Homo sapiens: one gene and its partners. The protein of the gene in region 1 purifies or fractionates together with the protein of each later gene. This does not show direct contact. Each region holds a gene or a part of one and is shown on either strand. Other genes may lie near its edges. The genes, in order: MYO1C, SMARCA5, TWF1 and BAZ1B.

Evidence for each region.
Region 2: the proteins of MYO1C (region 1) and SMARCA5 purify together in Homo sapiens (affinity purification with western blotting; 3 studies listed by BioGRID, with this or other methods). This does not show direct contact.
Region 3: the proteins of MYO1C (region 1) and TWF1 purify together in Homo sapiens (affinity purification with mass spectrometry; 2 studies listed by BioGRID and IntAct, with this or other methods). This does not show direct contact.
Region 4: the proteins of MYO1C (region 1) and BAZ1B purify together in Homo sapiens (affinity purification with western blotting; 3 studies listed by BioGRID, with this or other methods). This does not show direct contact.

Annotation. Positions count from the first base shown.
Region 1 is NC_000017.11:1,489,683-1,496,874, reverse strand, and holds the start of MYO1C (unconventional myosin-Ic), read left to right. Parts: upstream 1-4,188; 5' UTR 4,189-4,387; coding exon 4,388-4,462; intron 4,463-5,195; exon of another isoform or gene 5,196-5,275; intron 5,276-5,929; exon of another isoform or gene 5,930-5,947; intron 5,948-7,192. Other genes in the region: INPP5K (inositol polyphosphate 5-phosphatase K), read left to right, coding at 72-209, 473-556, 711-815, 996-1,052.
Region 2 is NC_000004.12:143,509,370-143,516,718, forward strand, and holds the start of SMARCA5 (SWI/SNF-related matrix-associated actin-dependent regulator of chromatin subfamily A member 5), read left to right. Parts: upstream 1-4,332; 5' UTR 4,333-4,555; coding exon 4,556-4,732; exon of another isoform or gene 4,733-4,856; intron 4,857-5,075; exon of another isoform or gene 5,076-5,468; intron 5,469-7,349. UniProt on the Homo sapiens protein: ATPase that possesses intrinsic ATP-dependent nucleosome-remodeling activity.
Region 3 is NC_000012.12:43,803,314-43,810,920, forward strand, and holds the start of TWF1 (twinfilin-1), read right to left. Parts: upstream 3,005-7,607; 5' UTR 2,933-3,004; coding exon 2,908-2,932; exon of another isoform or gene 2,518-2,907; intron 1,260-2,517; coding exon 1,182-1,259; intron 928-1,181; exon of another isoform or gene 863-927; intron 1-862. UniProt on the Homo sapiens protein: Actin-binding protein involved in motile and morphological processes. Inhibits actin polymerization, likely by sequestering G-actin. By capping the barbed ends of filaments, it also regulates motility.
Region 4 is NC_000007.14:73,519,288-73,526,327, reverse strand, and holds the start of BAZ1B (tyrosine-protein kinase BAZ1B), read left to right. Parts: upstream 1-4,034; 5' UTR 4,035-4,394; coding exon 4,395-4,501; intron 4,502-7,040. UniProt on the Homo sapiens protein: Atypical tyrosine-protein kinase that plays a central role in chromatin remodeling and acts as a transcription regulator. Involved in DNA damage response by phosphorylating 'Tyr-142' of histone H2AX (H2AXY142ph).

The DNA of each region.
Region 1 (7,192 bases):
TGAGGAACACTTGGCCTCAGAGGAGGGAATGATGCTGCGAGATTCAGCCCCCTTCCCACCCCCGTGTCTAGCTGAAGCCATTGGTGTCTGCTCCGCTGATCGTCCTGATGCCCGAGGACCTGTGGACCGTGGAAAATGACATGATGGTCAGCTACTCTTCAACCTCGGACTTCCCCAGCAGCCCGTGGGACTGGATTGGACTGTACAAGGTGATGTGGTGGCAAGGCAGGAAGTCCATCAGCGACAGCCCCTGGTTCATCCTTCCCGAGGGCTCCTGGGAGCTGGGCAGATGCTGACGAACTCACCCTCATCCACCCCAGCGGTTCTTCTGTAGCTAAAGGCTGGCAGTGAAGGGCGGCGGGGAGGCACACAGTACGGTAGCCAGGCCCAGCAGGGAGACCATCTCTTCCTTAGGACTTGCCTTAGGTCCCATGTCCTCCCTGACCACTGATGGCCTGACTCCCCCTCACAGGTGGGGCTGCGGGACGTTAATGACTACGTGTCCTATGCCTGGGTCGGGGACAGCAAGGTCTCCTGCAGCGACAACCTGAACCAGGTACGTCACCAGCACCAGGTACATCACCAGCAGGCAGGCCTGCCTCAGCACTCCTGTCTTGTGGAAGGAACAGAGTGCTGAATAACTTGTCACTCAGAGCTGGGTGGAGCCCAGAGCCCTGGAGCTGACCCCAGTCCTGTCCATCCCCCTCCAGGTTTACATCGACATCAGCAATATCCCTACCACTGAAGATGAGTTTCTCCTCTGTTACTACAGCAACAGTCTGCGTTCTGTGGTGGGGATAAGCAGACCCTTCCAGGTAAGCAGTGCTGGTGAGGGAAGGGGAAGGGTGAGGGCTTGAGCTCATCACTGGCTCCCTGAGGCCCAGGCCTGGGAGCCAGCCGGTACATGAGGGGCCGCTGCAGTGCAGGAACGGGGGTGATGGAAAGCACGGAGGAAGACCCGCTCTCCATTTCCACCACCTGCTTTATCCCTGCAGATCCCGCCTGGCTCCTTGAGGGAGGACCCACTGGGTGAAGCACAGCCACAGATCTGAGCCAGGATGGGAGTGAATCCCAGGCGGAGGCCAGAGCTGGCAGCCAGCTCTGCCTTTCCACTGCCGGGAGTGCTGGGGGCCCAGCCTGGCCCCCTGAAGAGACAGCCAAGTGTCGTCCACATACTCCTCCCAGAGTGAGCTCTAACCAGGCTCATTTGCTCTCTCCACTACTCATCTCTGGAATTAGCCGCTTAAATACAGGTTTTTGTTGCTGAGATGTGAGTGAAACCAGCTAGTGTGTCAACAGTGAAGACCTGGGGACAGTTCTGCGTCTCATTTCTGGATTCCTACCCCCTCTTCTAGTCTTGCCCAAGTAGTCCTGCCAGGCACATGCCCCATTTGGCACAGGCCTGCATTCTTGTCGTGCCGTCCTGGGCCTCAGGCTGTCTGGGAGGGGAGATGCTCACATTTGTACAGGCTACATAGACTGGTGCAAGCAGTGCTGGATTCCAGGAGTCTTGGCATCTCATAGCTTGTCCCCGTGAGGAGTGAGCAGAGGGTCTGGGATTTCTGCTTTCAGCAAAAGCAGTCTGACTCAGTGGGCAGAATGGAGGGGCCCCTCTAGCCAGGCTCTTACGCCATGGTTATGAGCAGGTTGATGAGGGTCCTTCGGCCAGCACAACCTTCCTCCCTACTCACGGCATGGAGTCTGACTGCATGGAAGTTCCAGATCCTGACAGAGAGAACTGGGAAGGATCCAGGTTCGCTTCCGTTGGTAGCTTGAGTCCCATGCCTCCACCCTGCCATCTGAGGAAGGGGTGACAAGTGGTCAAGGAGCTGTGGCCACAGACTTTTCCAGGGTGGTCCTTGGCAGGTGAGGTGCGTCTGTGCCACCCTTGTCAGGAGCCATTGACGACGGGCCCCCCCTGGACCCCCCGGGACCTCAGAGTGGGGGCAGGCAGAAGGGAGAACCAGCTCAAGACATTTTGGAGGATCTGGCCCTGGGGTTCTTCAGAGAACACCCTCTAGGGGCTTTGGGGACATGGCCTGTCCCCACATCCAGCACTTGCCTCCGCCATGGTCACTCGGCAGCCCTTTTCCCAGGAGAAGACACCTCTGGGAGCCTGCTCAGTGCTTGTCCTGCCATCCTGTGTCCTGGGACTGAGGGTTACTCCAGTTGCTCTGTGTTGCATACTCTCCCCCGCAAGCCTGTGTATGAAGAATTGTCCCCTGGCTTCCAGCAGGCCATGGCTGGCTGTTTTGTGACTGTTACATTGTGCAGGGGTAATTATTAGCGTGGCTTTTACACTTGCGTGTGACTGATGATTGGGGGGTGGGGGTACGGTGATGGGCCTGGGACTAGCTGTAGATTCCAGGAACAGGGACCCTGTAGATCCCAACTAGACTTCTGTGTCTGAGATTTGCAGAAGTGGCCAGGACTGGGGCTAGGATGAGGTTCTAGAATGGTGAGCCTCTGGGGCCCTAACCAGGTGGAGCATGCCATCTATGCCGGTGGCCGCTTAATGTACTCTGTTAAGTCAAATGAGCTCTTGTTCATCCCTCCTGACCCGCTGCTCTGCATACCCTGGTGTTGAGCCTTCTGCCTGCGTTAACCAGTCCAGAATGCCACCATCTTCTCTTTCTGCCCCACTTCTCCTCAGCCCCTTCTTGCTGAGTTTTCCCCCATGGTAACCTATCCCTGCCCCCAACACATATACCTAGGGACCTCCAAAGCCCTCACTTGCCCACCTGTTCCTTCTCACATGCACAGCCATCACGAGGGTTACTGCATGGCACCCTTCATTGGGCAGATGGGAAAGCCAAGGCTCAGAGAAGTGGTACAGTCTCTTCAAAGTTCCAGGCACCTGTGGTTTCCCACAGGACCAGAAACAGGAATGGGGTCTGAACCCACCCGCAGAGCGGTCTCAGTAGTCTGTAAAATACAGATGATGTCCCTATTCTCAAGATTACTGTGGGAGAACAATTGCAGAAAGTGTATCGCACTAGACCCGCCTCCCCGTTCTGATTAATGCGGCCCCGGGGCTTGACCCCAGGGGTCCCCCCACATGCTCACCTCCCCCGTGGTGAACTGAGGTCGCCACACACCCAGCCTCCTGTGTGGGAGGGGTGAGCCCAGCAGTGATTGAGAGGCGGAAAGGGGAATGGGGGGTGCTCTCCGTCCTCTGGGCCCCAGTCAGGATATGGCCGTTCTGGGTCCACCCCGACCCACTGGGTGGAAACAGGAAATAAGTGAGACCTGGTGTGCACTGGGTCTACGCCTGGCTCCACGGCTGATAAGGGCCATTGTGTGGCCGCCGGGGATGAGCCTGCTCTGGATAGATGTGCTTCCCGGAGGAAGGAAGGAAGGCTTGCTAGCTTTTCCGGGGCGGGGGAAGCTGTGGGGAGAGAGAAGGGTGCCGGGGGGAAGGCCCCTGCCTATGGGGCTGTCGGTGCCAGCACACACCCACGGGACTCAGCCCTTCCTATGCCAGCCTCTCCCTCTGGAAAGGTCTGTTTCCCCTATCCACTTCCCTGTTCTTACTTCCTATAAGGAATGGCTGGAGACTGGAGGGCTCAGTCTCAGGCCAGGAAAGTGTCAGCTGTGATTTAGCAACAATAAAAATAGAAAAGCAGGAACATCAGGGGTGGGGGTCACCTGGGGGTACTGTTGAAACGCAAGGGATGAACAGGGCTAGAGGTTGCCCACACCCAGGGAACCCAGGAACTAACCTCACAAGCTCTGAGGCTCAGAGGAGGGTAAGCCAAGAGCTTCCTCACAGCGGGACAGCCCCCTGTCCGGGCCCTGCATGACCAGGCCCCAGCAGCCCTGGTCTCTCAAACTCATGGTGGGGGCTCACCTGCTGTGGGGGGCAGCCCCGTTGAGGGGATGTGCAGGAAAGCCAGTGCCTACTAACGGGTCCTCTTGGCCTAGGGGAGGGCATGCCGTCTGGTTTGGGGAGTGGGCCCCGTGCTCTCTAGGTGGTACCAGAGAGTGGGCAGGAGGAGGGGCCCAGCCATAGAGCTGCCGTGGGGATGGGGGGAAGGGGAAAGGCGTCCTAGCCTTTGACCTGGAGCCCAGGGTCCCCCATGGGTGGCTGCATCGGCTCCTCTGGTTACCTGGGACAACAGGCATTTCCTCCATCCCCAGCCCCTCCTCTTCCTGCTCCAACCATCCGGGCCAAGAGGCCTCCCAGTCAGACCTGGACGGCTCCAGCCGTGTCCTGAGGAGCTGGACCAGCCACATCCCCTGGGGCTGCAGTTGAAGCAGAACCAAGTGGCCATCCCGGCGTTAGACCGTAGGTTCCTGGTCCCGGAGTGGTCGGAGCCCGCCAGTGGGCAGGCAGCTCTTGCTCACAGGCCGCGGTGCCCAGGCCGCTGGCTCTCCGCAGGGCGGAATGGCGCTGCAAGTGGAGCTGGTACCCACCGGGGAGATCATCCGCGTGGTTCATCCCCACAGGCCCTGCAAGCTTGTAAGCTGGGATGCTCTGGGCTGGGAGGAGGGTGGGAGCGTCTCCCCAAGGCCGGGCAGCCCCTCTCAGGCGAGCCCTCGGGCAAGAGCTGAGCAGCGGGGAGGGGTTCCGATCCTTGGCGGGGCCAGAACAGACTGAACAAGACGGGGTGAGTGGAAGAGTAAGGATGCAAGGGCCACTAGCAGCAGGATTTTTGGAAGTGGAGGTCTGGGCTTGACTCTTCCCCGGCTTCCCGAACCTCAGTGGGCAGAACCGTGAATACTGGGCACAAAAGGCAAGTGCCGGCTGCTGTGAGGTCGAAGGACCAGGGCATGGAAGCTCCAGGCTCAGTCAACGCCCCGCTCCTCTCCAGTCCGCAGGGCTGGGACCGCCCAAGACTCAGAACAGAAGGACGGTGTGGGAGGTGGGTGAAGGGTCACGGGTGGGTAGAAACGGGGGAGCGCGGCCCTGGCCCGGCCCGCAGGAAGGGGCTGGAGATGCAAAGGGCCCGGAGGAGGGAGAAAGTCGGGCGCCCCCACGCCCCCAGCAGCGCGGCGGGGAGCCGGGTCTTCGGCCGGAGGGGCGCGCGCGTGTTCGCTGTGGCCCCGGGAACGGGCCGAGGCGGGGGCCGCACGCACCGAGGCTTCGCGGACGCGGCCGGGGCTGAGGCGGGGCGGGGCGGGGCCGGAGGGTGCGCGGCCCTGCCCGGGATGACGACAGGCTGCGGCCCGGCCCCCGGCGGGCCCTGGGCGGGGAGAGTGCGCCCGGGCCGCGGATCCCCAAGCCCGCCACGCCGCCCAGCCCGGCCCCGCCCGCGCCGGAAGAGCCACGCCGGTGGGTACTCGGGGCGCGGGGACGGCGGCCGCGGGGGGCGGGTGTGGGGAGCGGGCGGCCGGGCCGGGAGCCGCCGTGCACGAGGCAGGGGTCACGGCCGGGGATCGCTGGGGCCGAAGAACGGCCGCGTGGACCCGTGCGGGGGGGGGGGGTCCCACGACCCGGAGGCGCCGGCGCAGCCTGGTGGAGACTTAGATTTACCTGCGGGGAGCGGGAGGCGGGGAAGAGCGGCCTGGGCTGCAGGACCCAGGACCCTGCGCGCCCTTCGGGCCCCGCCCGCAGCCCTGCTCCGCCTCTGGGTTCCGGAGAAGCCGCCTAAACCCGCCCCTTCCCGTTCTCCGCCCCTGGGGCCCAGCGCGCCCCGAGTGTGACGGGCGGGGGGCTCCGGGGTGGCCGGAGAAGGAGGATGGCCACGCGGCCCTCAGTCCTCACGCTCCGGCCTCCCGCGCACACGCCTGGCTCTGAGATTCATTCATTCATCCAGGGGTCCGGGAAGGGGTGACTGAGCCCCACCGTGTGCCTCGCTGCGTGTAGGGAGTGGGAGCCGTCTCCTGGGAGGGACTGACAAGGAAACAGCTGATTCCTGCGGGGTGCGATAAGGAGGCGCTGCGTGTTTGGGAGAATCAGGAAGGGGTTCTGGAGGAGGTGACACCTGAGCCGAGTCTCAGTGAGGTGGGCAGGGAGAGTGCCCCGGGCTGGGGAAGCCGCAGGTGCAGGCACTGAAGCTTGGACTGGCTGGCGACGGTGCGAAGGCCCCCTCCTGGGGGGAGGGGTGGGGGGAGAGGGGACTGGAGCGGGCCATCTGGCACATCGGAATGCAGGAGCAGTGGGGTAAACTGGGGACAGCAGGGGGGTCTCGGGAGTTCATAGGCAGGGTCCTGGTAAGCAGCAGTGAGTGTGAATCATGGGCCTGGCATATGGAGGGTGTCCTAAACCTTCACTCTATGAACATGAGGTGTTGATTTGATTTGTGTTGCCCCAGAGGAAATGGATTGGTAGGAGGAAGGCAAGGAGGCCAGTTAGGCTGCTGTCTTGGCCCAGGTAAGGAGCAGTGATGGAGGTGAGGTTTTTGTTTGTTTTTGTTGTTGTTTTGTTTTGTTTTGAGATGGAGTCTCGCTCTGTTGCCCAGGATGGAATGCAGTGGTGCGACCTCTGCTCACTGCAACCTCCACCTGCCGGGTTCAAGCTATTCTCCTGCCTCAGCCTCCTGAGTAGCTGGGATTACAGGTGTGTGCCACCGCGCCCAGCTAATTTTTTTTTTTTTTTAGTAGAGACGGGGTTTCACCGTGTTAGCCAGGATGGTCTCAATCTCCTGACCTTGTGATCCACCTGCCTAGGCCTACCAAAGTGCTGGGATTACAGGCCTGAGCCACCGCGCCCGGCCTGGAGGTGAGGTTTTAGCAGGTCGTGACTACTTGGTGTGAGGAGTGGAGGCAGGAGAGCAGGCCTGTTAATGCCAGGCTGTGATGACCAGCTCAAACAGTGCCACCCTTCTCTCTACAAGGACATTAAACAGGGAGTACAGGTTAGGGGTCAAAGGCCCTCTTTTTTTTTTTTTTTTTTTGAGACAGTGTCTCTGTCACTCAGTCTGGAGTGCAGTGGCATGATCTCAGCTCTCTGCAACCTCTTCCTCCAGGATTCAAGCAGTTCTCCTGTCTCAGCCTCCCAAGTAGCTGGGATTACAAGCGTGTGCCACCACACCCTGCTAATTTTTTGTATTTTTAGTTGAAACAGGGTTTCACCATGTGGGCCAGGCTGGTCTGGAACTCCTGACCTCAAGTGATCTTGCCTGCCTTGGCCTCCCAAAGTGCTGGGATTACAGGCATGAGCCACCGCTCCTGGGCCGTTTACTTTTTTTTTTCCCCCATACAAATTTATGTTAACATGTTATGGGTTTATTGCTTTGTTTCTTTGTTT
Region 2 (7,349 bases), on another chromosome or scaffold:
AGAACCAGCCCAACAAAAAAGAAATTATTTTTTCATGAGCAGGAAGAAATGCAGAGAAAACCTGAAAAACTTTGACTACATAAACATATGCATATATACCGAGCAGACACAAAGTCTCCCACTATTTAGTTGGTGACTAAATATGAGGGGAATGAAGGGAATATATCCTTACCTGTTTATTAACAGTACAGTTAATGTTTCTCTTTAACTGAAATCTCTGTACATTGACAAATGACCTATGTGGGAGAACTCTAAAAAAGATACATACAACATGTAATCATTGGTATCTGGTGTTGGAAATACCCATTCTTAGATACAAACTCAATACAGTTTTATTGTCTTGCAGTAATCAGACTTTATTTTCTTAAGCTTTGACAAAATGAGTTGCAATGAAGAGAGGTGTTGCATTTCTTCTTTGTCCTTGAGAAAACTTTAACTCCTTTCTGTTACCATTCAAGGACACAATGCTGAGAGAGCCCTGGCTCTTCGGCACATTTTTGTCCTCTGGCAACATCTCTTTGTTCCATTGTATTTCTGTACTGTACTTGCTGTTCTAGCACATTAAATCTAACAGAGGAAATTTTAGGTGTAAACTATGTATATACATATTGGAGATAGAACACTAACATTATTTTACACTGTAGCATTCTGTTGCTGGGAATACGACTAAAGCTCTAATCCTTTCTGGTGTTTTCTTGCTACCAAACCCCTTACCCTCCTCCTTCTTTGGTTCCTCTTCTTTCAACTAGACTCTAAACCTTAGGCTTATGATTCTCAAGGATAAGACTAACACTTGAACCCAGAACTCACTATATGTCAGGCACTGTATCATGTACCTTATACTGTCTCATTTAATTTTTATGACATCATAATATTATCTCAAAATAAAGCTAGGAAAATATAATAATAAAAAGATGAGAAAATTGATTTCAAAGAGGTTAGATAACTTGTCTGCATTCACACAGCTACTAAGTTCCAGAGCCTGCACTGGAATCTAGGCTTGCCTGCTCCCCAACCCACTCTTTTACCAACACATGAATTCTGTATTATGTGATCAATTCAACAACTAGCTGCTAGTTTTAGCCTTTTAGCAGGATTTTGTGATTTGGCCACCATATTAGTATTGCTATCTGCCTGAGGAACACAGCTAATGTCCCTGTAGCTGTTTCTAGGCTTCATGTCTTTTCTGTAGCTCTTCTCTGCTTTTCCTTTCTGGTTCTAAACTCTGCCAAAAATCTTTTTCTCTGTCACTTATGCTAGATAACTGAGTTCGAGCATTCTGTGTCCTCTTGCTAGTTTCCATCTTTTCTCTATAATTTTCCCCCGAATGATTCTAATACAGCTTTCATATGATCATATGAGAAACTCACATGTAAATGCACATGTTAAAAGACAATCGCCATTTTGGAGGCAATTTTTATTTATTTATGTGCATTGTTTTCCTTGCTATTTATTGCTTTCCTTAAATAGTTATCAGACTTAAGATCCTTTCATTTATATACCTACATATAACTTTAGGGTTTCCAGACCAAGACCCAAGATTTCTACCTAAGACTATAAAAAGTGAAGAAACATTTCGAATGCTAAATTAATGTTTTAGTCTATTTAATGTAAATATAAAAATATTATTCATCAAGTATTTATTAAGTATGTGTCAGGTTCCACCCTAGACACCACTTTCTTACCCTTCCACATAATTTTTTTTCGGTGAAAGAACATTTTTTAAAATTAAAAATAAGCTTTCTAAAAATGGGGAGATGTTGGTCAAAGGATACAAAGTTTTGGTTATACAAGATGAATAATTTCTGGAGATGTAATGCACAGCATGGTAACTATTGTTAATAATACTGTTTGCATAGTTGAAATTTGTTGAGAGTAAATCTTAAATGTTCTCACCATGCTGGCAGGCAGTAAATATAAGAGGTGATGTATATGCTTATTAGCTTGATTGCGGTAATCATTTCACAACGTGTTTATATATCAAAACATCACATTGTATGCCTTAAATATATACAATTTTGTGAATTATACCTCAGTAAAGCTGAAATTTTTTTAAAAAAAGTTTTCTTAATACAATAATAGGCAAATTCGGCAGCCTGGCACAGTGGCTGTCACCTGTAATCCCATCACTTTAAGAGACTGAGGCAGGTAGATGGCTTGAGCCCTAATTGTTGTTCAGGACCAGTATGGGCAACATGGCGATCCCTGTCTACACCCAAAAAATACAAAAATTAGCTGGGCTTGGTGGCATGCACCTGTAGTCCCAGCTACTTGGGAGGCTGAGGTGGGAGAATTGCTGGACCCCAGGAGGCTGAGGCTGCAGTGAGTCACGACTGTGACACTGCACTGCAGCCTAGGAGACAGGGCAAGCCACTGTCAAAAAACAAACAAACAAACAAACAAAAACAAAAAACCAGCAACGATCAGTTTCAATACTTTTGTAAATATGCTTCCAACTTTTATCTACATTTTTGAACTGTTAAACCAAATTTTTCAGTTAACACTTTATAAATTAACATTCTTTGGCTAGGTGCGGTGGCTCACGCCTGTAACCCCAGCACTTTAGGAGGCCTAGGCGAGCAGATCACTTGAGACCAGGAGTTTGAGACTAGCCTGGCCAAAACAGCAAAACCCTGTCTCTACTGAAAATACAAAAATTAGCCAGGCGTGGTGGTGCACGCCTGTAATTCCAGCTACTCCGGAGGCTAAGTCATGAGAATCCTTTGAACCTGGGAGTTGGAGATTGCAGTGAGCTGAGATCATGCCACCGCACTGCAGCCTGGGCGACAGAAACTGTCTGAAAACAAAACAACACAAAACAACCATTATTCTACATTAATGGTTGTTAAAGGTTAATAGTTCATTTTCTGGGTGTATGACAGTTTTAAACACCTAACTTTTAATACTGGATTCAGCCTACTGTTGTTAGCTTTTTGCAGTCATATATGAAGACTATGATGAACATCATTGTAGGTATTCATCTTTGCATATATCCTTAGACATTTCCTTATAGTCTAAGAACTAGCATTTCTAGTGGAGTGGGGACATTTTTCCAGATGTCCATTTAAGAATTATCATTCCATTAGTTAAAAAATTTGCAGGCTATATATTCAAAGGGGATCCCTTCTGTTTGGAATTCAACATAACCAGTTAGCTCAAACCTCAACTCTCGAAAAATGTGTCTCCTTTACTCAACAAACATTTAGAGAATACTGAATATGAGGAATAAAAAAAGATAAAAAAGACCCTGTACTGGGCAGGTAATCTACTGTAGTATGCAGATTCGTTATCAAACAGACTACAATGTATTTAAATTTTGTAGGCGATGAATGCACAAGGCCCTTAAGCTGCATTGAAGGCTGCCTAAGGCAGTATACAAAATCAGTGCTGAATATTTGTTAACACTTAAGGAGAATGTACGTTTTAATTTTCATGTTTGATGCTTGGGGAAAAGATTACATCGCACCACCTATCTTCCCCATATATTGATTATTCGTGTTTCTCACTTCCATGGTAGTGTGCACGTTATTTGCTTAACTTTGGCATATAAATTCAGAAGAAATATCATTTAACTCTGTGCCTAAGGAGGGTATTTAGAAATAACCGACGCAGCTAACATGAGAAGGCAAAAAAAAAAAAAAAGAAAAAAGAAAAAAATCACACTAACGGACTTTTTTTTTTTTTCTAACAACAAAAAACCGTGAGACTTCACTTGGGGTAACCATAACGTCGTCAAGGCTGTGGCGTCACGCCTCTAAGCGGATACGGCAGAAGTTTTGGGGCCAGACACAAGACTTCCAAGTTTGAATGGGCAGCGCAAAACCCAGACAAGTTTTCCGGTAGTGCCGCCAACCCCTGTCAGGCACAGAAGACACAGCGAGAACCGTGAGCCGTTACGAAAGCCTAAAACACTGAGCTCGCGTCCTGCCAAGCAGCAGGCGCACAAACCTACACCTCCGAGCGCTCCCTGGAGGTCCCGCCCACTCTTCTCTCCCGAGCCGGCTAGAGATCTGGAAGAGGGCGGGCCAAGGGTGAGGAGGGCAGTATGCGCATGCGCGCTCAGGACCCAGTCAGTGAGCCAATAAGGAATCTCGCGAGTGTTGAAAGTCGGTGGCGTAGGTCGTCGTCCTGGATGCTGGCGAGATAGATGTTATCTTCCAGAGGAAGAGGAGGAGGCGGCGAAGCGTTTTCCCAGCCTCAGTCTCTCTTTCGTTTTCCTTTTCCCTTCCCCCAACCCTCCGCCCTTCTCTAAATCAGCCGGCCTTCCTTGACCTCAGTGACCCGTCTGGCCCCGCCCACCCTCGTCGACGTGATTCCCGCCGTGAGGTAAGCGCCGGTGGAACCTAGAGCCCCGCGGAAGAGCAGAACGTTTGGGAGTGTGCAGCTCCTGGGCCCGGCTCAGGCCCGTCGCGGAGGCGCGGCGCAGGGGAGCGCTCGGGTGGGAGTCTCGCTCCTCCACCAGTTTATTGCGACGTAGCATCCAGGCCTAGGCCTCCCCGTCCATCCCCGCCGGACTCGGGCCTCTGGCAGCAGCGGGTGACGCAGACGGAACATCATGTCGTCCGCGGCCGAGCCTCCGCCACCCCCGCCTCCCGAGAGCGCGCCTTCCAAGCCCGCAGCCTCGATCGCCAGCGGCGGGAGCAACAGCAGCAACAAAGGCGGCCCCGAAGGCGTCGCGGCGCAGGCGGTTGCGTCTGCGGCCAGCGCTGGTCCCGCAGACGCCGAGATGGAGGTGAGGGCGACTTGCGGCATGGGGAGCGGGTGCAGCGGGGAGGAGGAGCTGGCTCCCTCGCCGGATCGTGGCGATCGGACGCAGAGCCGGGTTTCTCTCTCTGCACCAGACTCAGCTTCACACCCTGTGGATACGAAATGATGCTCTCACTCTTGCTCCCTTGTTCTTACCCTATTCGAGCTAAGCAAAATGGATTTCTGGCTCCTCACATTTAAATTATTTGTCTCTTTCGTGAATCCTGACAAATATTTGAACGCTCTCAGTGAACAGATGTTCTTGGTTACCGTGGCCCGGGGGACCCATCGTTTTTTTCCCACTAGACTCCCATAATTCCCTCTCCTACCTCTGAATGTGGTTTTTAGTTTCCACCAAACTTCGGGGAAGGGCGAGGAGATGACCCCTTAGGAGCGGGATGCACGGGCGGGGTGAAGGAGGCATTTAAAAGCAGCGCGTCCGAGGACTTGGGCCTCCTTTTCTTCTTCCCGGTCCTTGCAGGGGCGGTATCTGTTGTGGGCAGAAACAATGGCGAGAGCTGGATGGCCGAGTGCGCAGTGGGGATAAGCGGGGCGCAGCTGCTTCTGTGAAGGGAGAGAAGGCCCCTCCCAGGCACTATTCCACTGGAAGGGAAGCAACCAAGGCAGCAGCAGCTGTCTCGGATCCCCCGTCTAATTTAGGGGGGATGAATAAGTGTAGGAATGAATTAGAGAACCAGGCGCAGTTGGTTGGCTCTCAGTCCGGCACTTTTCTCTTTTTGGCCTCTGGCCTTAAGAAAAAAAAAAATTAGTACCACTCGCTGCCGAGACTTATGGGTTTGGGTTGGGCAGGGGATGCTGACAGTACTGAGGGGGCTGGAAAGATGGGGGAAGCTGCCAGGCGGGTAAATTGGATATGCTTCCAGGCTTTGCATCTGGGAACAAAGTAATTGCTCCTTCCAATTTTTATTTTCTTGGCCTTCGACCTGTTTTGAGATATTTTGTGAGTCGGAGCCCAAAGATTTCTGGGATTTTCCTATCCTTAGACAGAATGAAAGTAATACTGCTCCGAAGATGAGTCTTGATGCAGAATCATTATACAGTAAGAAAATGGTAGCGTAATTTACCATTGAGGCTTTTGGCACAGTAGTTATATTTGGGTAGCTGGGGTTAAGTAACATTAATGTTAGTAATCATTTAAAGAACTTTTAGTGGTGAGGGTAGGTTTAGTGACATAGGAACTCCTGATAGTTCCTGTAGTTTTGAGTGATTAAGATAAGATTACTTCCAAATTAAAATATATTCAGTGTTGCTTTTTTTTCCTTAAGGAAATGGTTCTTTTGGGTTACTAGGGCTCTTTAACTTGGATTTCTGTTCCAAGGCTTAAGGGGTTTGACACAAAGCAATTATGTGTAAATGTGCAGTTCTCTACAAAAATTGTTTATAGTTTTTCCTCAGCTTCTCAAAGGGGTCTGCCATCCAAACTTTGGAAAAATGAATGTTTCACCAGAGGTCTTATTAATATCTGAATGCAGAGTAATTTTAAGCCTAAAGCAAGTCAACATTTTTGACTTGAAGTTGCTATTTTAAATGAAAATTGATTTTAAGTTCAAACGTGAGTATAGATGTTATCACTACCGTATTAAATTAGTGATATTTTCATTTGCCAGATGGGGAAATTGAGTTCTACTAGGTAGAACCTGTAATAAAACTCGGATCTGCCTTTAAAAGTGAGCCGTTTCCCACCCATCTTGCTCTGCCATGTTCTTACCAAAAAAAACATATTTGGCGGTTCAATTTATTGAATAACATTGTTATTTTTACCTTCCTAGTATAGAAATATTAGGAATTTTATTTTTTTATCCATCTTATCACTGACACATTTTTTTTTTGGTTGACATTATAGTGTGATTTTTTTTTTTGTCTTTTAAAATGTCAGTTTCCTGTTTAACAAAATTCAGAATTACTGCAATTCATGATATAAACTAAGTTTGAGCACACATGCTTAATATATATGTCACAACTTAATCTGTTTTGCACTTGGAAAATGAATATTTTATAAATGACTTTTTCTTGTTTGGAAGTATGATCTAAGGTGTTTTTCTAAACAGAGTAAACCCAGCATTCATGAATTTTTTTTTTTTTTTTTTTTTGGTGACAAAGCTGATTTTCCCAGAAATAGCCTTCCTATGTATTCAGTTACTTTTTTTCTTTTTGCTTGATACTAATAGGTCAATGGAGCACTTGTTTTTTAGTTATCCTTTTGGCAGTGTGGAACTCTTCTGTGTTCATCCTCATCTCTATTGACTAGATTGATTAAATAGTCACCTGTATACCAATAATGTGATGTCAAGATGCCTGAAGCACATTTTATTTTTGTAGGTTGCATTTCATGGCATTTTGGAATTTTGTAAACTGGACTGGGTAGGTGGCTTTGTCACTTACATATGTAGACCAGAGATTTATGATGAACATAGGGTCACACAAGTGCCAAGGGTCTTAACAATGAAGTTAGACTTGACTTAAGGTCATTTTACCTTCTATTCCAGTACCGTACCAGATCTCCTCCCCACAACTTTTTGGTCACAGATAGTTTTATTATAGCATATATTGCCTAGCATAGATTTGTGCATCATTAATGAAGA
Region 3 (7,607 bases), on another chromosome or scaffold:
AGAACTCCCAATTGTAGTTGCCCCAGGGTAAGGAGGTCAGAAGCAAAATTGTTTAAAGGGGATGCTCTTATACCAGAAAAACACTGAATTTTCTAAAATGCTTGAAGTAAATAAGATAAAATGTTAGCAGTTATTAATAAAGGGGAGATATAGGTATTTATGATACAATTTTAGTCTTTGGAATTTTCCTTATTTAAAAATTTTCACAAAACAAAAAAGTAAAACCAGAAAATAATAACTTAGGAAGTAGTGCCATTTTCCTTCCGTAGAGATGCTAGTTAGATTAACTTTTCCATTTTAGTTCCTTAACTAGTCACTTAGGAAGTGATGGCATTAAAAATTTTAGCTCAGTATTTTTAAAATATGCTGTTTTACAATATACATATATTCCTATTGAATGTTGTATGTAAACAAATGCATATTTTACAAACTATTCTGGTATTTTTTATATAAGCAGAAAATAGAAAACAAATTAGATTTACTTCCAGTTTGTGAAAGAACAAGTTACTTTTCCAAAGCAAAATATTTTCAGATATTTAAGAAATTAGGCCACTGGAATATTTTAATATATTCATTTATGACTGAGTACCTATAACAATAATTGTTCAAATTCAAATCTGCCTGATTTAAAAGATTCTCCCACTCAACCAGATTCCCTGTTTACAGAATTATTTTTAAAGAATCAATTTGTAGTTTGTTATATTCTCAGAACTTTCCCAAAACAAGAAAGGGAAATGATCATTTCTGTGGCAAAGGTTGCAATCAAATGGAGAAAATGGGAGTTTGATATCCTTTGTTTATATTTAAAAACAAACTTAATTGAATAATTCACAAGTAACTATTTTTTTTTTTTGATAATCACCTGTTTAGTGATTTCCATTCCAGAGATGGAAGCACTGACATTAGAAATGGACTGTGGTGCAGAAACTGAGACACAAAAAGTAAAAGAGGAAGAAGTCACATCAAAAAACATCTTTCTGTTTCCCTGATAGTCACATAATTCAGAATGAAATTAGGGGCCCATAGGGACCTGCACAAAATATGAGGAATCCAAGTTACCGTAAGATTTGAACTTGCTTCATATTAATTAATAGTTCAAATCACTGACAACACACAGTAAGTTTAAAAATACAACAGCCACTAATCCAGGAACAGAAAATATTTTAAAATATTTAACTAACCATTTTCAATAGATATTTTCAGAAGTCTGTACTTTCCATTTCTGGCTCTGGCAAAGATCTCTTTAACATCTTCACTTGCTGTGGAAAAAGATAAAGAAAGTAAACTTTTTATACTTACATATAAATACTTTCCTATCTATATTGGAAAAGTTAATTAGAATACAAAGAAAAAATCTGGAGCATGTAGCATCCTTATTATCAGTATTATAAAACTTTACCGCATAAAATAACGAAGACTGTATACAATTAAGAAATATAAATATTAGCATTTTAAAAGTATGTTAATAATTCTAATCTGTTTTAGCTACATAATTCTGTGCAGAAATAACACTGGGGTGAATATACTGAAGTTACTCAAACCCAATAATGAGCAAATTACAATTTTGAAAAACTTTTCTTGCTCTTTTGAAAAATATTGAAAACCTGCTTTCATTCTCTAATTCAGTTTCAAGCTTATGACAGACACTCCTTCATCAATTCACTTTCTGTATTTTCCCGTTAAAAACAACAGTATATATCAAATATCCTAACTTGTTTAAAGAAAAAGACAATAAAATGCATTCAGTCTTAACTCTGGTTATATTTTTCTAACTTGCATTTCTCAAAAGCTAGATTAAACTCATTGAATAAATATGTATTTAATAACTAACCCTTGTGTTCCTATTAAAGCTTCAATTTCGTTCTAATTTCGTTCCTGTGTTGTCTATTAGCAGCAAGAACCACTATGTAAGTAGGTAGTGCTTGCTATAAGGCTCAAGCATGAGAGTCAATAACTACATATTTATATATCGAAATTAATGCGGATAAATAAAACAAAGTTTTCAGATTTGAGACTATTTTGCTTCTGCGTGCGTGCAGGGGGATGTGTGCGGTGGTGTCAAAAATCTTTACGAATAAAACATACAATTAAGTGTTCATCTGGGAGAAAGACTCGCTATTAACAGTAAGAGCTTGAGTTTACACTAGAACTCGTTAAGTGATCGCGAGTAACCCGGGGATATATTATTTGACTCTTGATGAGGTGAGTACCTGCAGGCTGCCCAATTTCAAACCAGGAAATAATGGAGGTCAGATATAACTGCATATTGAACTGTCTGCACGCATTACATGCAACCATACAGATCAGTTTCCCTTGGGGAGTATCTAGGAAAAAGATCAAAACACACGCTTACACTCGAGATTTCTCAGAACATAACTCTCATTTTCCTATTTGGAGAGAAAATGCGGGAGAGTTTTGGGAAGCACCCCTACTGATGTGAGAAAGATTCTGGCATGGTTCTTTTTGTAATCAAAGTCCTGTAATATTCTCCTTTGGACCATGAAAAAGAAAACTCGCCTGGTTCTCGACAGCGTACTGAAGCCCCAGTCGCCTCCACTGTCCCAGCTCTTCCCTACGTGACCAAAAGGGGGAAAGTTGGGCGACTGTCGGGGACGGTGGAAGGCACGCCCCCTTCAACCAGGCCGCCTCGAAAGCCAATTTCCTTCGCTCCCCCGAATTTCGGATCAATCTGCAACGTGACGGCAGCAGGGACCGGGCTGGAGGAGGACGCAGGCCGGCAGCGCCCGGGAAGCAGGAGCGCGGAGAGGCGCCGAGGCCCGGCTCGCCCCGCGAGACCGACTTCCGGAGCTCCCGGCCCGACTCCAGCCCTGCCGGTCCTGCAGCCCTCCCGGCTCTCCCGGCTCTCCCGGAAGCCCCTTCCCTGCGAGTCGCGCCGGGCGCTGTTACCTTGGATGCCGGTCTGGTGGGACATGGCGGCGGCCGCTAGCTCCCGGCTCCGGCGCTGAGTGCAGCCAGCGGCCCCGGCCGGCGGCCCCAGGAAGTGGCTGCTCCTCCGCCGGCCCCGGCGCGTCATCCGCCCGCGACCCGCGGCCGCCCCGCCCCGTGAGGTTGACTGAGTGCCCGAGCGTCCCCGCCGCCCCGCCGCCCTTCCTGGCCGCCGGGCTGCGGTCCAGCCCCCGGCCTCGCTATCCTAGTTCTCTGCTTGGGGTCCTGCTTCTGCTCTTGCCGCCGCCTCTCCCGCTTCTTCCGGGGGGGACATGCCGCAGAATCTAGACTGCTCAGTGCTCCGACGTCTGCTCTCTGACAACCCCGCCGACGCCGCCATTCGCTGCCTCAGCAAAGGGGTGCTCAAAAACGGAAGTGATCATTTTACCAAATAGGCATTTTCCAGCTTAAAAAAGATGTGCACATTATTTTTCTTGGTTTACTCTTCCTATAATCGATACCGTTTAGTGTAGAAAAGCCTTCTCCTTGCTCCATTGTTTTGAAAGAATTAATATAGACTGCCTCTCATCAAATTTTTCCACGATTTTAAATTAAGTTAATCTCAGACTGTTAACTTTTCTTTTCAGCTGGACACATTTAGAGACTCAGTGTATCTTTCTCTTCACTCCGGAAAGAGACAGCCACTAAGAGATTAGCTGATTTGAGTATCCCTCTGTGGTCGATTATACCATTGCAAATCCTGCTCTGCTTTAGGTTGGCAGTTTATTATTTAATCCAGTAATTATTCAAAATTCACTTGGACAGATTTGTAAGGTAGCAGCAGATATTACTTAAAAATCTTTTCCTTTCCTGCTTTTACAAACATGTAGTTCCTTCCTGAAAGGTAATGTTAGTTTTGTGGGGGGTTTGGTTTTTTTTTGGTACTGCTTCTCTACTGCTACTAGGTGGGAAGCTAGTTCTTATTTTTAGGGCCTTGAAGTGACACATACACAAAATTATAATCTGCTAATGAAGAAATAATTTATTCAGGTCAATAATATAAGTGCAAGTTAATCACTGTTCCAGTACTATACGATGTATTTTTCATGAGTGATGAACAGGCCTGCAATTGTTTTTCTTTACAAGAATCACAGCAAACAAGGTTATGTTCTATTGCCTGTTATCTGAGCTCTGTTTTTCAGACATATTCTCATATTCAGGAATAAACTAAATCTGAGTTTTATGACTTGTATGGATTTAAGAAATGTAGGGAGGAGTTTCATTCTAATCAAATTCTTCCTGACACAATGGTTCACCCTGATTTACCAGTTTTTGACTACATTGCTGAGCAGAGAGAAAATTGCAGAGTTGACTTGCAGTATTTTGACTGATTCATGTCCTAGTGCTTCGGGGAAATTGCTTAAGGAAGTTGGCGTTGCTCAAAAGTATAGTTGAGCAAAATATAATCCTTCCATATTCGTGCTTGGGAAAGGCCACTGTATTCTCAGTCCTGAAGAAGAGGAATGTCTAGTTAGGTTGGGACCACCCTGACAGCCACCAGAAAGTGCTTATTTACTGCCAGTACAATAGTTTGACTTAAAAGCTGCAAGCGTCTTGGGTACCTTGCTCTGCTCTAGCCACAAATATTTTCCCACTTTTCTTCATCTATTGTGTCTCCATTTAGTGAACATTTGCCAGAGCTGTCATGAGAATAATACCTTAGATTTGTATGGTAGTTTACAGTTTACAAATAATATATAATAGACTTATTTTGAGTACCAACATCCTGTGTGACGAGCTGAAAAAAATAGCAGGTTTTGTTTTTTAACTTTAAGAGGTTTGGAAATTGAACCACAGAGTTGGGAAGTCAGCAGGTTTCAAGGCTAAGACAAGTGTCTGTAAGAAACAAACCATTTGAAAACAATGTATGCAGATAAGAGGGTTTATTATAAGGATATTGGAGGATCTTATAGATCTTGACAACTTGGTTGTCACCTCTGCTTTTCTCTTCTTTTTCTCCAAATAAGATCTCTCTGCTTGTGCAGTCAAAATGGCTGAATATGGCTACCCTACACTTTCCAAATTGACAGGGTTGTAGCTGCATGCAGAGATTACATAGCTCTTCTAAGTCCAAGTTTAAAGTTCCTAAGAGAAAGCACGTGAATGACCCTGCTTGGCTTGTGTCAAATCATTCTTGGCCAAGGTGGCTGGTTTACCCAATATACACTGCCCATGAGTGAAAGGCAATTATCACAGGAGGGGAGATGGATCTTGGGTGTGGGAAACAGGTGTAGAATTCCTACTTTTTACAGTTTGGTAGAGGTAATGTTTAGAACCTAAGATGGTGGTCACAAAACACAAATGCTTATGGGGTCAGTTAAATAACATAAATGAATGAAGCTAATAAATGGAGACTGTGGCAATGAGAGGGAGCACAGGATCCATCTAAAATGAGCTACTACTAGGCCAAGTGGGATGGCTGACACCTGTAGTCCCAGCTCTCAGGAGGCTGATGTGGGAGGATCACTTGAGTCCAGGAGGTAGAGGCTGCAATGAGCCATGATCACCCCACTACACTCCAGCCTGGGCAACAGACCCTGTCTCAAAGGGGAGAAAAAAAAAAAAAAAAAAAAAAAGGAGCTACTACTACTCAATTCAATTCTGACTGACTGATGCTCTGTGGGAATTCAAGCGCAAGGTGACCAATCTTATGTTTTGCAAGTGATGTCGGAAACTGGGATTTTATGTAAAATCTCTATTTCAATTATGTAGGAAAACAAAACAAAAAGAGAACTATAACTGCAAGTCAGGTTTGACCTATGAAATGGTAGTTTAGGACTTCTGACCTAGATCATCTGTGTGGTCAATTGCCAAATAATGACATTTTAAAATCACAGCGTCCATAAAGTCTTTTTACCATAGAAGAGACTATGATGCGTGCCACATTAATGTGAGCAGTATACATGTTTGTGTATAGTGCATATACACAGGAAACTAAAAAAATCATTCATCCATCCATCTTGTTTCTTCTCTGAATTGAAACCTTTTTGATAGATTCATTTCTTCTTTACTTGGTGAGGTAATTATAAAGAGCTGCACTATTTGCGTTAGATTTTCCTAGAGAAGAAACCCTGCTGTAAAATTTTTAAAAACACATAGAAGTTGTATGACCATGAACAACATTATTTAACCTAAGTCTCCATTTTCTCTCTTGTTATATGTCATACCCATGTCTCATGGTTGTCATGAAAATCAAGTGAAATATGACTTTATGAAGCTCTAACATGTATGAATGCTCAATGTATGTTAGGCTTCATATTTTGTTAGAATTAAGTCTAACACAATACATTACAATACAGTATGATTCAAAATAAAAGGTCATTTAAAACAGAGCAAATGGAGTTAGATTGAATTTCCAAACCTCAAAAGCAACAATCCAAAGTTGATTTCTTATATAGGTTCATAAAACCACAATATCGCTGGGCCCTGTGAACTGCTGTGTTTTGTGTAACACGTCCTTAGATTTATAAAGCATTAAATAAGAAAAGTAACCCTTTGGGTTATAAAAAATGAGGATCAAGAATTAAGCAACATACCTTGACTGAAATTAACTTTTATTATATGCATGTAATTATAACCCTCAACAATTCACAATAAACACCTGACAAGATTGCTAAAACTCCTCACGAAATGGAATATATAAGATAAAATTCTTTCATTCCTATCGGACTCAGTGGTGCTTGAGAAAACAGAACAGAGAGTCTGGGTTAAGGAATAGTTCAAGCAAATGATATTTCTTTATTATTTTCCCAAGTAAAATATAGACTGAAGTAATATTAATAAATGATACGTACTTTCCAATGAAAGAAACAGGGAACACTTTGGTTCAAAAGAATTGTTGATAATGATAAGGATGCATATTGGAATCAAAGTGCAGGAAAGCACAAAGCAACCAGCTTTTTGATGTATTATTTATAGTGAGATTTTCACCCTGGGTTGGAAAAGTGCCTTAGCAACAGCATCTTGAATCTCTTTCTCATTATCTCTAACATGTCATGTGGGGTAGGATGGTTTAAATGCCTAATAGGAATATTTGCAAATCACTTTGAACATACTGCTTGCTCTCTTTCTCTGTTTCTCTGTCTTTGCTAGTGATGCTAATTAACACCCAAAAACCTTCCCTAACGTTTAAATAGCATGTACAGGAGATATTATCTCATACTGAGTCCACAAACGGGGACAACCTTCCTTGTCCTTTATGTATTTCTGTAATCGCAACACAGGCCACTCCAGACTTTCCATATTAGATAAATTTAGGGCTGGAATCTGCAATCTGGTGGGAAGATGGTGCAAGGGGAACTGTGAGCTGAGCTTGCATAGCAGGGTTTGTTTGTTTTGTTCAGATCTGCTGTATTTTTTAAAATAAATTCAAGAAAGGCATTCATAGCAAACTGACAAGCAGGGCGAGAGGGCAGGGATGCTCAGTGAGATTATGGGAGAGTTAAAGCTCCTTCACTTCCAGCCTAAACTACTCTTTGGAGCTGCCTGAAAATCATAGCCTCATGGTTGGGATCCAAAACAGATTAACCCTTTCACTAAGCGCTGCTCCATAACAAATACTTTATCATAAAGCTTCAATGTATCTGTTATGTTTTTTCAGAATAGGCTAGGTCAGTATGGTGACCTTTATTTAGGGGTGTGCCAATGAAGGAGTTAACTCT
Region 4 (7,040 bases), on another chromosome or scaffold:
ACTTGAGCCTGGGAGGTGGACGTTGCAGTGAGTTGAGATTGTGCAACTGCACTCCAGCCTGGGCAACAGAGTGAGACCCTATCTCAAAAACAAACTAATAATGTAGTCATTATAAAAACATAATCATAAAATATAGAAAAATATAAAGAAGAAAATCACATCAATTGTAATTCCAGTGAAAAAGGAGGGGTGAAAAAAAAGAAAAGAAAAAAAATTGTAATTCCAGGCCTGGTGCGGTGGCTTATGCCTGTAATCCCAGCACTTTGACAGGCTGAGGAGGGAGGAAACCTTGAGGCCAGGGGCTTGAGGCCAGCCTGGGCAACACAGTGAGACCCCATCCCCGTCACCGTCTCTACAAAAAAGAAAATACTTAGCAGGACATGGTGGTGTGTGCCTGTAGTCCCAGCTACTCTGGAGGCTGAGGATCTTGAGTCCAGGAGGTCGAGGTTGCAGTGAGCTGTGATCCCCCACTGCACTCACTCCAGCCTGGGCGACAGTGCAAGATCTTGTCTCAAAATGAGACAAAACGCAAAAACCATAAATCCATTTCCCCGAGATGAGCACTGTTCTTTATTTGGGGTCTCTTCATAAGCTCTATATGGTTCCTGAAGCTCAAGTTTCTGTACTGTGACCACCAAGCCCCACCTCCAGCTCCCACTTCCTCCCTCAGAATTTCCGGCTGTGTTCTGGATGGCTCTTCAGGGTACCTGGAGTTCACATGGCTGAAACCAAGCCCATTACCGATTTTCCCATCTCAGATCCCATCTTCACCAATCCCAGCAATGGATTCTAGCCCACAGCGGACCCAAGCGCTGAAATGATTATGGTGCCCAGTTCACATGTGCAAAGTGAGATGCTGTTCTGAAATATCAAATTGTTTTCTTTTGCTTTTTTTTTTTTTTTTTTGAGATGGAATTTCGCTTTATCGCCCAGACTGGGCACCATCTCAGCTCACTGCAACCTCTGCCTCCCGGGTTCAAGCAATTCTCCTGCCTCAGCCTCCCAAGTAGCTGGGATTACAGGTATGCGCCACCACGCCCGGCTGATTTTTGTATTTTTAGCAGAGACGGGGTTTTGCCATGTTGCCTAGACTTGTCTCAAACTCTTGGCCGCAAAGTATCCTCTCTCCTCAGCCTCCCAAAGTGCTGAGATTACAGGTGTGAGCCACCATGCCTAGCCCTGTAATTCCCTTCTAAGTAGTCACTCCGATTCAGCCATTACAGAATATATCAGGATGGTCACTTCCTTTACCATTCTCATCTGATATATTCTGCCTCAAATCCTCACATTTTGGGCACACGATCTTGAACTTCCAGGCTTCACTCTGCTGTTCTGTCTATAATGTTCGTCCCTCCTTCTCTGTCTAGAGAACTCTTTTCTTTTCTCAATTAACTCAAACGCTATGTGCTCTGGCAAGGCTTCTCCTGCTGTTCTTGGGAGAAAAGTCTACTGCCTCAAGGAAAAGGAACCGAGATCTTTTCTGCTAGGTGATCAGAGGAAACTTCACAGAGGTAGCTTTTGACCTAGACCTCCTAGTGGGGATAGGAGATCCTTGAGGTGAGAAGAAAAGGAGATAGAGGTCTGACATTAGGAGACTGCATTTAGAGACACCTCGCAGTCTAGCCCCGTTGAAGGACAGGCTGGGAAGGTACAGCTGGGAAGGTACAGGCTGGGAAACTTTAAAGTGAAGTTCTTTAAACTAAGGGAGACAGTTTAATAGGGAGATAACTTAATGAGTGTGTTTTTGATTGTACTGGAAAGCCAAACAAATTCTGGATGTGGGTGTTGTCTGCTTGGAGAAGCAACTGAAATGCTCCCCATTTAATAGCATTAAAATAGTTGATGCTATTTTCTTATTCTGCACTTTGTATAGAACTGTGATTATTATTATAATTTTTGAGACGGAGTTTTGCTCTTGTTGCCCAGGCTGGAGCGCAATAGCACAAACTCGGCTCACCGCAACCACCCCCTCTCGGATTCAAGCGATTCTCCTGCCTCAGCCTCTCGAATAGCTGGGATTACAGGCATGCGCCACCACGCCCGGCTAATTTTGTATTTTTAGTAGAGACAGGGTTTCTCCATGGTGCTCAGGCTGGTTTCGAACTCCCGAGCTCAGGTGAGGCGCCCGCCTCAGCCTCCCAAAATGCTGGGATTACAGGCGTGAGCCATCGTGCCCGACCAAACGTACCTATTTCCCCCCCCCCCCCGCCTCCCTGAGACGGAGTCTCGCTCTGTCGCCCAGGCTGGAGTGCAGTGGCACGATCTCCGCTCACTCCAAGCTCCACCTCCCGGGTTCACGCCATTCTGCCTCAGCTTCCCAGTAGCTGGGACTACAGGCACCCGCCACCACGCCTGGCTAATTTTTTGTATTTTTAGTAGAGACGGGGTTTCACCGTGTTAGCCAGGATGGTCTCCATCTCCTGACCCCGTGATCCGCCCGCCTCGGCCTCCCAAAGTGCTGGGATTACAGGGGTGAGCCACTGCGCCCGGCCCAGACGTACCTATTAAAGAGACATCCTGGCTGGGCACAGTGGGTCACGCCTAATCTCAGCACTTTGGGAGGCAGAGGCGGGACAATTGCTTGAGGCCAAGAGTTCGAGACCAGTCTGGGCAACAAAGTAAGACCCTGTCTCTACAAAAAAAATAAAAAATAAAAGGTAGATCCAATTCATTCAAATAGTATTCACTAGCACCTACAATGTTCCGAGCCAGGTGCTGAGTATCATGGGAGAAAAAAAAAAAAAGCCAGAGTCACAGCTCTGGCAGGGCGTGGTGGCTCACGCCTGTAATCCCAACACTTTGGGAGGCCGAGGCGGGTGGATCACCTGAGATCAGGAGTCCGAGACCAGCCTGACCAACATGGTGAAACCCCGTCTCTACAAAATACAAAAAATAGCCGGGTGTGGTGGCGCGCACCTGTAGTCCCAGCTACTCGGGAGGCCGAGGCAAGAGAATAGCTTGAACCCGGGAGGGAGAGGTTGCAGTGAGCCGAGACTGCACCACTGCACTCCAGCCTGGGCAACAAGAGTGAAACTCCGTCTCAAAAAAAAAAATAATGATAATTTTGGGAGGCCTAGGCGGTCGGATCACCTGAAGTCGGGAGTTTGAGACCAGCCTGACCAACATGGAGAAGCCCCGTCTCTACTAATAATACAAAATTGGCCGGGCGTGGTGGTGCACGCCAGTAATTCCAGCTACTTGGGAGGCTGAGGCAGGAGAATCTCTTGAACCCGGGAGGCGGAGGTTGCGGTGAGCCGATATCGCGCCATTGCCCTCCAGCCTGGGCGACAGAGCGAGACTCCGTCTCAAAAAAAACAAAAACCAAAAACCAAAAAACTAAGTACGTCTTTTAATCTATTTCTCCAAAGAAGCTTCTATATTCTACTTTCCAGCCAGCCCCTAGAAACAAGCAGTATACTTCTACCCAGATCTCAACCACACTCCCGCCCAGAAGTTAACTCTGGGGTGAGCAAAGCTGGCCCCCACGTTGTCCTTCCGCAGAACCTTTGGTAGGGTAAGCTCCCGGGGCCACTTCCCGCCAACCCCTCCCTGCAGCCCAGCCCCACCCGCGCATCCCCGGGCGTGGCCGAGCACGGCGCCTTTAAGAAGGGGGAGGCGCCCAAGAGGAAAGACAAAGCCCCTGGCCGCGCGCTCACCCTCCCCCTCCGGCGCACCACACGGACAGTGGTGCCCGGATGTCGGTGTCGCCGTCGGTGACAGATGGCGCAGTATCTGTATATGCGAGGGGCTTCTCCGGCTTGACCTCTTTGAGTTCTCGTCCTCTCCATCCCCCGCTGTCCCCCACTTTTAACTCTGCCGTCGGAGGCCCGCACGCCTATCACGGGCGCTTACATAACGTGACCTTTCACCTCTTCAGACTGCCCTCTAGTGCGCTGCAACCCAACTACGCGACAGGGGCAGGGGGGCGGGACCCAGGCGCGGAGCGGCAGCTCCTCCGAGCCAATAGGCTGTGAGCGCTGACCAGCTCTCCGCCTATTGGAGCATTCGCCACCGGCGCCACGGGGGAGCAAGTTAGTGTGTGCGTTGGCCGGGCCCGGGGGAGGAGGGGAATCTCCCGCCATTTTTCAATAATTTCCTCCGGTGCTGCTGAGGAGGAGTCGTGACTGCCGGCCGCCGGGACCCGAAGCGGAGGTCGGCGGGGGGCTGCTGGGAGGCGCGGCGGTGTGCGCGGGAGCTCTGCGCCGTGGCGTTCCGCTCCATGACTGTCGCGCGGCCGCGCCGGCGGTGAGGGAGCCGGAGTTCGCGCCGCCCTCTCACCCCTCCCTTCCCCCACCCCACCCCCGGGCGCCTGGCGCTCGCTCCGGGCCGCGGGGCCTAGTGCTGCGCCGCGGGGCCGGCCCCAGCAGCCGCCAGTCCCCACCGCCGCCGCCGCGATGGCGCCGCTCCTGGGCCGCAAGCCCTTCCCGCTGGTGAAGCCGTTGCCCGGAGAGGAGCCGCTCTTCACCATCCCGCACACTCAGGAGGCCTTCCGCACCCGGGAGTATCCTTTTCCAGCCGCGCGGGCCGGGCTGGGCCGGGCTGGGCCGGGGTAGGGCCTGGGGCTCGCGAGACCAGGTCAGCCGCGCATCCCCGGCCCGGGGCAGCTGTCAGCGCGCCCCGGCCGCTCGCGGGCCTGGAGGCTGAGTCTCAGCCTGCGCCCGCCGATCCTTCCAGGGGATCCGGCGGGGGGCGCGCACCGGCCCTGGAAGGAGAAGGGCCCGCTTCGGCCGCCCCCGGGGCCCCGCACTTTGTCCCGGGGCCTCGCCGGCGAGGAGCGCATCCCCCATCCCCATTACCTTCCCCGGGTTGGCTTTAGGCCTTGAGGACCCGAGAGGGAGGAGGAGGCGTGGGGAGGGGGAGCTAGGTTTTCTCCTTTAATTTTTACAAAAATTTTTTAAAAATTTAAATGAAACCTGCAGCTTAAGTTTTGAAATTGTACTCGCGCGGCCTCGTGATGCGGCGTGTGCAAGACTCAACTGCGTCTTACCCCGATCTCTGCGGGGATACTTGGCGTTTTTTTCGTCTCCCGAGGGGACTTTAGGCCGGGGATGAACTGACAGGACCCTGGGGCAGAAAACTAGGAATGAGATTCCCCGCTTAGAGGAAAGGGAGGGAAGGAAACTGCCTGTGGAGGAGCTGATGCCTGCCTTCCCTGGGCAGACACAGGTTTGAAATTTTGAAGGTTTAGAAGGAGATTGGTATTTGTTAAAATTAAACAAACAAAAAAACCAAGACGTGAAGTTTTTATGTTGTATTTTAGGAACATGAAATTGGATGTTTTACAAAGGAAGCATCCTCTCGTCATGACTAAGATTTCTTGCATAAGCATTATCTTTTAGTGAAAAGTTGTGCAGCTTTTATTTGCTTTTTTTTAATGGGTGCCAGAAGAATCGTTTTTGAGGCTTATCTGTAAAAAAAACAAAAACGATTTCGGAATCAAGCATTTCTTTGGTGACTGAAAGCTTTAAGAGTGAAGGCTAATGTGTTATGAGTTTTCTCAGCCCCTTCTGTTCGGAAGGACTTCATTTCTCAGTTTCTTGCTTGCTTCTGTATAGGAGGAAGTGTCTCTCAGAGTTATTTCATTTCTCCCTGATCCTCACTTTAACGCAGTACTTTAGAGGATAATCTCATTCTTGTTGGAGTGCAATTTGTGAGTGTCCCTTTGTGGGGAGTATACACACAAAGGGGCCTGGAAAATCAGTCCATGCTGGAGGAAGGCTCTTGGAGAAATAGAGCTGTAGCATCTTGGAGCTGAAGTGGATCTTGGAGGTGGTCGGGTCCTCGGGCTTGGTTTGCTGAGTTGGCCCAGAGAGTGGAGGTTGACTTGTTGAAGGTCAAATGATGAAAGAGGAGTAGAATCCACCGCTCTTCCTACCTCATCCCTGTAAGTCAATCAACAGAAGAAGGTGGAATGTTACTCCTTCACTTTCAATTAATTTAAATATTACCTCACTTTTTTGTCATTATGGTATAAGGTAAGGCACTTTAAAGTGGAGGGGTGGTGATCTGGTTTTTTTCTTGTCCTGTGAAGACTTGGAATGTTCTGGAGAAGTTCCACTAGCTCTACCAAATACTGCATTATACCGAAGTACCCCACTTTTTTTTTTTTTTTTTTTTGAGACGGAGTTTCCCTCTTGTTAACCCAGGTGGCAGTGCAGTGGCACGATCTGGGCTCACTGCCATCTCCGCCTCCAGGGTTCAAGTGATTCTCCTGCCTCAGCCTCCTGAGTAGCTAGGATTACAGGCGCGTGCCACCACGCCCGGCTAACTTTTTGTGTTTTTAGTAGAGATGGGGTTTTACCATGTTGGCCAGGCTGGTCTCAAACTCCTGACCTCAGGTGATCCGCCCATCTCGGCCTCCCAAAGTACTGGGATTAACAGGCGTGAGCCACCGCGCCTGGCCAGTACCCTACTTTTTAATACATTCGAATCGGCAGTGGAGTAGCAACTTGTGAGAATCCGACATATACTTTTCCAATGTCATTAATGTTTTGAGCCGTTGATGGATGCTCACACACTTTCAGATGATACTTTCTCAGGTCTGGTTCTAGCAGAGTATAAGAAACATGCCATAGAGAAGAGACAATTTCTAAGTATATTTCAGGTACTGAGCTATGTAAAAAATGGCTGTAGGAAGTTAATTTAGGACTGGCAACGCAGGCTTTTTCATATTATTGAATGAATGAAATTGAAATATATATATGAAGAGTTTTGATGGTAACAATTTAAAACTGAAACCGGAAACATTTTAAGTGGTATGTATTTAATAAACATTCTTCATTTTTTAATTTCCCATAACAGCATTTAAAACTGTTTTAACAAAAGAAGTCTTAAAACATATTATATATTGGGGGGAAATTGCTCTTTCGGGAATTTCTGCAAGTGGAAGCACTTTGAGGATGGTTTTTAAACAATTGTACTGTATGGTTGGCAGATTGGCATATTTCTTTATTAGGCTATTAGTGGTTTCATAGAGGAGAACAAATATGTGGTTAGGTAACAGCTGCCTTTGAAGTAGTATTCCCAGTTCTCAACTTATA